2 linked regions of the Homo sapiens genome follow. The protein of the gene in region 1 interacts with the protein of each later gene in a pairwise test. Each region holds a gene or a part of one and is shown on either strand. Other genes may lie near its edges.

Region 1 (3,825 bases):
GAACTCTGGCTAACTAATTATCTGGCTAATTTGCATCTTAAAAGGACACACGGGAATCAGTGAGGAGAATCCTAAGGGTCAGAGACTTGCTTGGCATCTTAATCGTTAAAAATAATTTACTCAGACTAGGCAATATATCCACAAAAAAATTTTTAAAAATTAGCTGGAGGTGGTGGCTCACGCCTTTAGTCCCAGCTACTCGGGAGGCTGAGGTAGGAGGATTGCTTGAGCCACTGCGTTCCAGGCTGCGGTGAGCTGTGATCTTACCACTGTGCTCCAGCCTGAGCGGCATAGCGAGACCCTGTCTCTAAAAATAGAAATAATTTACTTTGTATTTTTTCTAGATTAGAAACTCGGTGCTATGCTGACTTCCTCATAATGTGTGAAACTTCCAAATAACTTTAAAATATAATAAAGTTACCATATGCCTACTTATAAATGCCATGTCCGCTACTATATATTTTAATAATTAGTTGCCTATATTTTTGTCCTGTTTTTCATTTAGTCATGTTATTTTAGGATTAATATGGAAAATAGTTTATGTATGAAACTACAAGGATAAATTTTTTTACACATGAACTGGTTACCTCTTACTGATTTTTTTATGAAATGTGTTTGTTGCAGAAGTTTATAAATGATAGCACTGTGATATTTTTAAATTGTATTACCTTATTATTGAAATACAAAAGTGACTATATTGTTGATAAATATTAAAAATAACTTTAATCACCTGCATAGGAAAAACAAGAATATAATAAAAGTATTAAAAGCTATAGCTAAGTTTTAGAATTTTGTGCATTTTGTATGATTAATTTTTTTCAGTGAGCTTATTAGCTTTATTGCTTATCTTATTAAAAATGTGTTTTCATTATGATGAAAAAAGTAGATTCAGTATATTATACTTAAATTTCTGAAGGAGTCAAGCAGGTGAGGTAAGTACATGAGGTCAAGTAGACAATAAATTTTAACAGCTAATAAGCAATAGCTAGAATTAGGTCAAACTAGAACATATATATGTCATCTGTTGGGAGCAGACTATGCTGATTGCTGTGTAGAAATGGGGCACAGTGCCACATATTGTGATTTTTTTTTTTCCAAGAAAAATTTGTCTGGATTTTAGCTGTAGTTCATACTAAACAAATTTGCAGCAAACAAATCACCCACAGATTACTACTACACTGAAAATTTTGATTATATTCTAGTATTTTTAGGCAATTCATGATTTTTTTTTTTTTTTTTTTTTTTTTGAACAGAGTCTCACTCTGTTGGCCAGGCTGGAGTGTAGTGGCATGATGACTGCTCGCTGCAACCTCAACTTCCTGGGCTCAAATGATCCTCCCACCGCAGCCTCCCAAGTAGCTGGGACCACAGGCCTGGGTCATCACACCCAGCTAATTGTCATTTTTTTTTTAATAGAGATGGGGTCTTGCTGTTGCCCAGGCTGGTCATGGATATTTTATTTAAAATTGTAAGGGCTTAATTTTCCCCTGAATCATGTTTTTGGTATCTCCTAGCATTATTTTTTCTCTTTACTTTTACTTGAAAAAAAATGAAAAATTGACCAGATGTTTGTCTTACTGCATCTGGTTTCAGATGTCTTTTTTCTTTTTTTTTTTTTTTTTTTGAGATGGAGTCTCGCTCTGTCACCCAGGCTGGAGTGCAGTGGCGCGAACTCTGCTCACTGCAAGCTCCGCCTCCCGGGTTCACGCCATTCTCCTGCCTCAGCCTCCAGAGTAGCTGGGACTACAGGCGCCCACCACCACGCCCAACTAATTTTTTGTATTTTTAGGGGAGACGGGGTTTCACCATGTTAGCCAGGATGGTCTCAATCTCCTGGCCTTGTGATCCGCACGCCTCGGCCTCCCAGAGTGCTGGGATTATAGGCGTGAGCCACCGTGCCTGGCTCAGATTTCTTTTTTCTAATAGAGATGCGTTCTCATTATGTTGACCAGGCTGGTCTTGAACTCCTGGGCTCAAGTGATCCTCCTCCCTTCGCCCCTCAAAGTGCTGGGATTACGGGTGTGAACCACCGTGATTTCAGGTATTATTTAATAATCGAGGAAATCATAATTATAGAGGAAATAGGATATACTGTTTCTGATTAGTAATTAGTAACTTTTTATAATGATTAGTAATTAGTAGCATTTCAGTAATGTTAGCGACACAGCATGTGAGCCATCTTTTGTTGTCACCATTGTTTTTCATTAGCTGCTAATATTAAAACATTTACATATTCAAGGGATTTGTGTAGTAATTTTAATAGTAATTTGCTGCCTTTCATCTTTCTTGCATTTGAGGCATATGTGATTTGTCATTTCAGGAAAACTAATCAATTTCTATGAAGAGTGTATCCTTGAGTGATAGACTCTGAATACATCTTATAGCCATTTCCACACATGTACATTATAATGTTAGAAGACTGTGTGTGTATATATATATATATATCTTAGGAATTTTTTCTTTATAATAGCAGTACATTTATTATTTATTTTATTTATTTATTTATTTATTTTGAGACAGAGTCTTGCTCTTGTCGTCCAGGGTGGAGTGCAATGGCACAATCTCAGCTCACTGCAACCTCTGCCTCCTGGGCTCAAGTGATTCTCCTGCCTCAGCCTCCCAAGTAACTGGAATTACAGACACCCACCACCATGCCCGGCTATTTTTTTGTATTTTTAGTAGAGATGGGGTTTCACCACATTGGTCAGGCTGGTCATGAACTCCTGACCTCAGGTGATCTACCCGCCTTGGCCTCCCAAAGTAGCAGTACATTTATTAAAGAAAACTAGAAAGAAGTAGTGAGGCAAAAGCCCTCTCCAGTCTTACAGACACACACAATAATGATTTATTTCCTTTCACTCTTTTTTTGTCTTCTTGTAAGTCTTTGCCTGAGCTTGAAGGTCGGGAGTAGTTTACACAATCATCATTATGTTGCATATGCTGCTTTATATCTTTTTTTTTTTTTTTTTTTGAGACGGAGTCTCATTCTGTCACCCAGGTTGGAGTGCAGTGGCGTGATCTCGGCTCACTGCAAGCTTCACCTCCCAGGTTCACGCCATTCTCCTGCCTCAGCCTCCAGGTGGGACTACAGGCGCCCGCCACCATGCCCGGCTAATTTTTTTTTTTTTTTGTATTTTTAGTAGAGACGGGGTTTCACCATGTTAGCCAGGATGATCTCGATCTCCTGACCTTGTGATCTGCCTGCCTCGGGCTCCCAAAGTGCTGCGATTACAGGTGTGAGCCACCACGCCCGGCCCACTGTTTTATATCTTGATTATTTTTCCAAATTATTAATCTTCATAAGCATTGCTTTAATTATTGTTGAACCAGAGACAATTTCACTTTTTTGTGATATTATGATAGGTTGCTTTTGATTATATGTTGCTAAAAAGAGCACCAGCGTAGCCAACTTTATACCTGAAGGCTTTCTGAATTTAGAGTAGTTCCTCATAATAGATTTCCAACAGTTGAATTTTACTGGTTCAAAGTATAAACACTTATGAATTTCTCATATTCTTAAATTTCAAAGGAGTTGTATATGATCACTAGTAGTAGTATAAATTCCTGTTTCCATTTGTACATGTGTTGAGAGTTATTCTTTTAAAAGATCTTTGCTGTTGATAGGCAAAAAAAAAAAAACGCATTTTATTAGTACTTTTTTAAAAATAATTGTTTCCTGATTACGAAATTGAAGAAAAATTGGAAAACAAATACATTAAAAATTACCCTTAAACCCATGGCCCACACATGATGATTGCTAACATTATGGTGTAAATCCTGTCTTTTTAATGTGCTTACTGATACGTGTGAAATTGGGATTTTATA
Region 2 (3,615 bases), on another chromosome or scaffold:
TTGAAAAAAACAAAAAGAGTTGGTATGACTGGTCTGGGCTAACAGTTGTCCTTCTCTTTTTTAGGATGCACCCATTGTTGTTTCTTATGTAGGTGACCACCAAGCATTAGTTCACAGGTAATGAACATTTGGAGGTTTGTTTTAAAAGGGTGGGAGAAAGGTCATCACACTCCAGGAATCCAGCAGTTGCGCAACAACAGATAGTTCATGTAATGGTCACTTTTCTTCTTTGGACCACCAAGCCCATTAGAATGGGCTGAAACTGTTCTAGAAAATTATTTTTCTTAGTGTCTGGTTTTTCATTCATTATAAGCTTGAGGATTAGTTGCTGGAGTGGGGTGGAGGCAAAGTGGGTCATGTCTATCGTTTCTAAGGAAAACTTCAATATCACATAAAATTAACTCATGTATAATAATCCCTTTTATAGCAGCTCTCTTAAAGTATCTTTACATATAAGCTCATAAATCCTTTCATTGACTGGGCTTAAGAAACAGTAAAGGATAGACATAGAGAACCTTAGCTACCTCCCCTCCCCCGCCAATAAAAGAGGCTTCTTGCTTACTAGGAATATAAAAGAGTAAATAGGGAATCCCCTTTGTTTGATTTTAAAAGCTTTTGATTTAAAAATACTTTAAAAGTGTTTGTTTTTCTTCCTTTGTAGACCAGGAATGGTTCGCTTTCGAGAAAACTGGCAGAAGAATCTTACTGATGCCAAATATAGTTTCATGGAGTCATTCCCCTTCTTATTCAATCGTGTCTGATACTTACAGGATGTCTTAGGATTGTTTTTCTCATCAGGATACATTAAAAATACAATACAGCACGTCAAACCACAGAATATTTATTGAGTAATAAACTTGTGGCACACAATCCAGCTGTATTTTTTTGCATTCATTCATTTTCCATTCTGCAACCTCCATCACATTAGCAGAGTAACCAGTAAGTTGTTTTCTATTTTCTAAAGTATTTTTTTCTATCACTATATGTATCACTTCTGAGTCTTACAGGTATAGAGCTGAGTTTAGAGAGTTGCTAAAATTCACCTATTGGACCAAACTAAGGTTGGTACTTGGCTGTTTGTTCCCCATCTGAGCCTAAGTCTCCAGCTCAGACACATCTCTTTATGGGCACAACTGGGAACAACAAAATGGCAACAGTTCTACAGCTCATAATATAACCAGTCTGAAGGGTTCCCCTACTCACAGACCCCTTCATTTACTGGGAGTTAAGCCTCACTGCTAAATAATATATTTTGAAACTGGAAAACTGGGCATGCTGCCTTCCACAATACACCACTATACTCATGATTGCAGGAGGGTGGCTTGGGGACTAGGGGCAATGACACGGGAAGGATACAATCATTGCCCTTACTTATCTTTGATCTTCTTCCCATCCTCACACTGAATAATCACTTGTTCCTACCTTCCCTGTGAACCTCTCTTGCCTGGCTGCAAAATTTTAAGACACCAAAGACAAAATTACATTATGCTCTGAGTGATTACTTACAAGTACATCAGAATATTTACTTACATAGAAAAGCACTGGAAAGGAGGAACACAAAATATGAAAGACAATTGATATGGTACTGAAATTTTTCTTTTTTAACTGTTAGATATTTGTGCAATAAATAAAAAAGGAGGGAAAACCACATCAGAGCAATAGGCAAGGAGGTGGCAAACTAGATAAGTCTCCTTGGAGAACAAAAAATATATTTAAAATACAATAGCCCTACTACAACTGATTTATGGCTCAGGTGACTAAACACAATTTGAAGCAGTAACAACACTCATAAGCTGAAAATAAAATACTTTTAGCCCTTTTATTCTTCTTGCCTCTTTCCCAAAGAATATGCCAATGAAGCTGTTCTTGATGTCACAATATTCATATATCGCAGAATTTCTGCATTTAAACTACCTTGCCTACTGAAAATAAGATAATCATTTCATCTCTAGGAACCAGTAACCAAAAAAAAAATGTCCTTAGAGAATACATTTTTATTTGTTTGTTTATTTAGAGACGGAGTCTCATTCTGTCTCCCAGGCCGGAGTGCAGTGGCTTGATCTCGGCTCACTGCAACCTCCACCTCCCAGGTTCAAGCAATTCTCCTGCCTCAGCCTCCCGAGTAGCTGGGACTACAGGCACGTGCCACCATGCCCGGCTACATTTTTTGTATTTTTAGTAGAGATGGGGTTTCACCATGTTAGCCAGGATGGTCTTGATCTCCTGACCTCATGGTCCGCCCACCTCGGCCTCCCAAAGTGCTGGGATTATAGGTGTGAGCCACCACGCCCAGCTGAGAATAAAATTTTTAAGTGGGTATTACAAAATTCAGGTTTTATTATTCAGGGAAGTAGATGGATTGAGACTCAAAACTTTGGGAACTAGTTTCTTTTAACTTTTGAAAACTACAGATTTATTAGGCTAGGCAGCAACTACAATTAGGTATAAATAAACAGAAATCATTTCAAATTCAGGGGTCATTAATGCTGCTACATGCTGACTCTTATTTTCAGTAGTTGCGGGTTAAAAGTAGACATTTCCTGGAACATATATTTAATAGTATTTAAGACTGTTAATACTGTTTAATTATAAAACTTTGGGCCGGGTGTGGTGGCTCACGCCTATAATCCTAGCACTTTGGGAGGCCGAGGCGGGCGGATTGTTTGAGGTCTGGAGTTTGAGACCAGCCTGGGCAATAAGGTGAAACCTTGTCTCTACTAACTATACAAAAATTAGCTGGGCATGGTGGTGCACACTGGTAGTCCCAGCTGCTCGGGAGGCTGAGGTGGAGGATTGCTTGAGCCCAGGAGGTGGAGGTTGCAGTGAGCCGAGATTGCACCACTGAACTCTAGCCTGGGTGACAGAGGGAGACCCTGTCTCAAAAATAATAATAAAAAAACTTTTGCTCTATACTTTGAAATATGACTGCCTTATTTAAACACTTTTGAAAAACAACCACTTAAAAATATAAGGCAAGCGGGCATTTTACAATAGTATAATCAGAATGTCCTTATCACTCAGGTAATTTAAATTTATCATAGGCATGTAATAATAATGCAGATCAAATAACCTTAACAAAAACGGCCAGGCACGGTTGCTCACACCTGTAATCCCAGCATTTCAGGAGGCTGAGGCGGGCAGATCACTTGAGGTCAGGAGTTCGAGACCAGCCTGGCCAAGATGGCGAAACCCCATCTCTATTGAAAATACAAAAATTAGCCAGTTGTGGTGGTGAGTGCCTGTAATCCCAGCTACTTGGGAGGCTGAGGTGGGAGGATCACTTGAACCCAGGAGGCAGAGGTTACAGTGAGCCGAGATCACACCACTGGGCTCCAGCCTGAGTGACAGAGTGAGACTCTATCTCAAAAAACAAAAAACAGAAAACCAACCTTAATGAAAACAGCCAAAACTTCCTGGGTTCCCTCCCCCATTCACTCTTCTGACCTAATTAAAATTGAACGAAATAAACAAAGGAACAAGACCACGATATCATAGTCCCACAATTTTCCATTTCTCCCCAACTTAAAAACAAACAGAAAGGTTTAAGTGTTTAAAATGAAATCTACTTAGTATATGAAAGACAGTTAAAAATATTTAATATCATTTTAGTTTCTC

What was found.
Region 2: the proteins of PPIG (region 1) and NKAP interact in a two-hybrid assay, tested with the Homo sapiens proteins (one large-scale study listed by BioGRID and IntAct).

Annotation. Positions count from the first base shown.
Region 1 is NC_000002.12:169,590,699-169,594,523, forward strand, and holds part of PPIG (peptidyl-prolyl cis-trans isomerase G), read left to right. Parts: intron 1-3,825. UniProt on the Homo sapiens protein: PPIase that catalyzes the cis-trans isomerization of proline imidic peptide bonds in oligopeptides and may therefore assist protein folding. May be implicated in the folding, transport, and assembly of proteins.
Region 2 is NC_000023.11:119,919,847-119,923,461, forward strand, and holds the end of NKAP (NF-kappa-B-activating protein), read right to left. Parts: 3' UTR 826-3,615; downstream 1-825. Other genes in the region: AKAP14 (A-kinase anchor protein 14), read left to right, coding at 65-117, 662-761. UniProt on the Homo sapiens protein: Acts as a transcriptional repressor. Plays a role as a transcriptional corepressor of the Notch-mediated signaling required for T-cell development. Also involved in the TNF and IL-1 induced NF-kappa-B activation.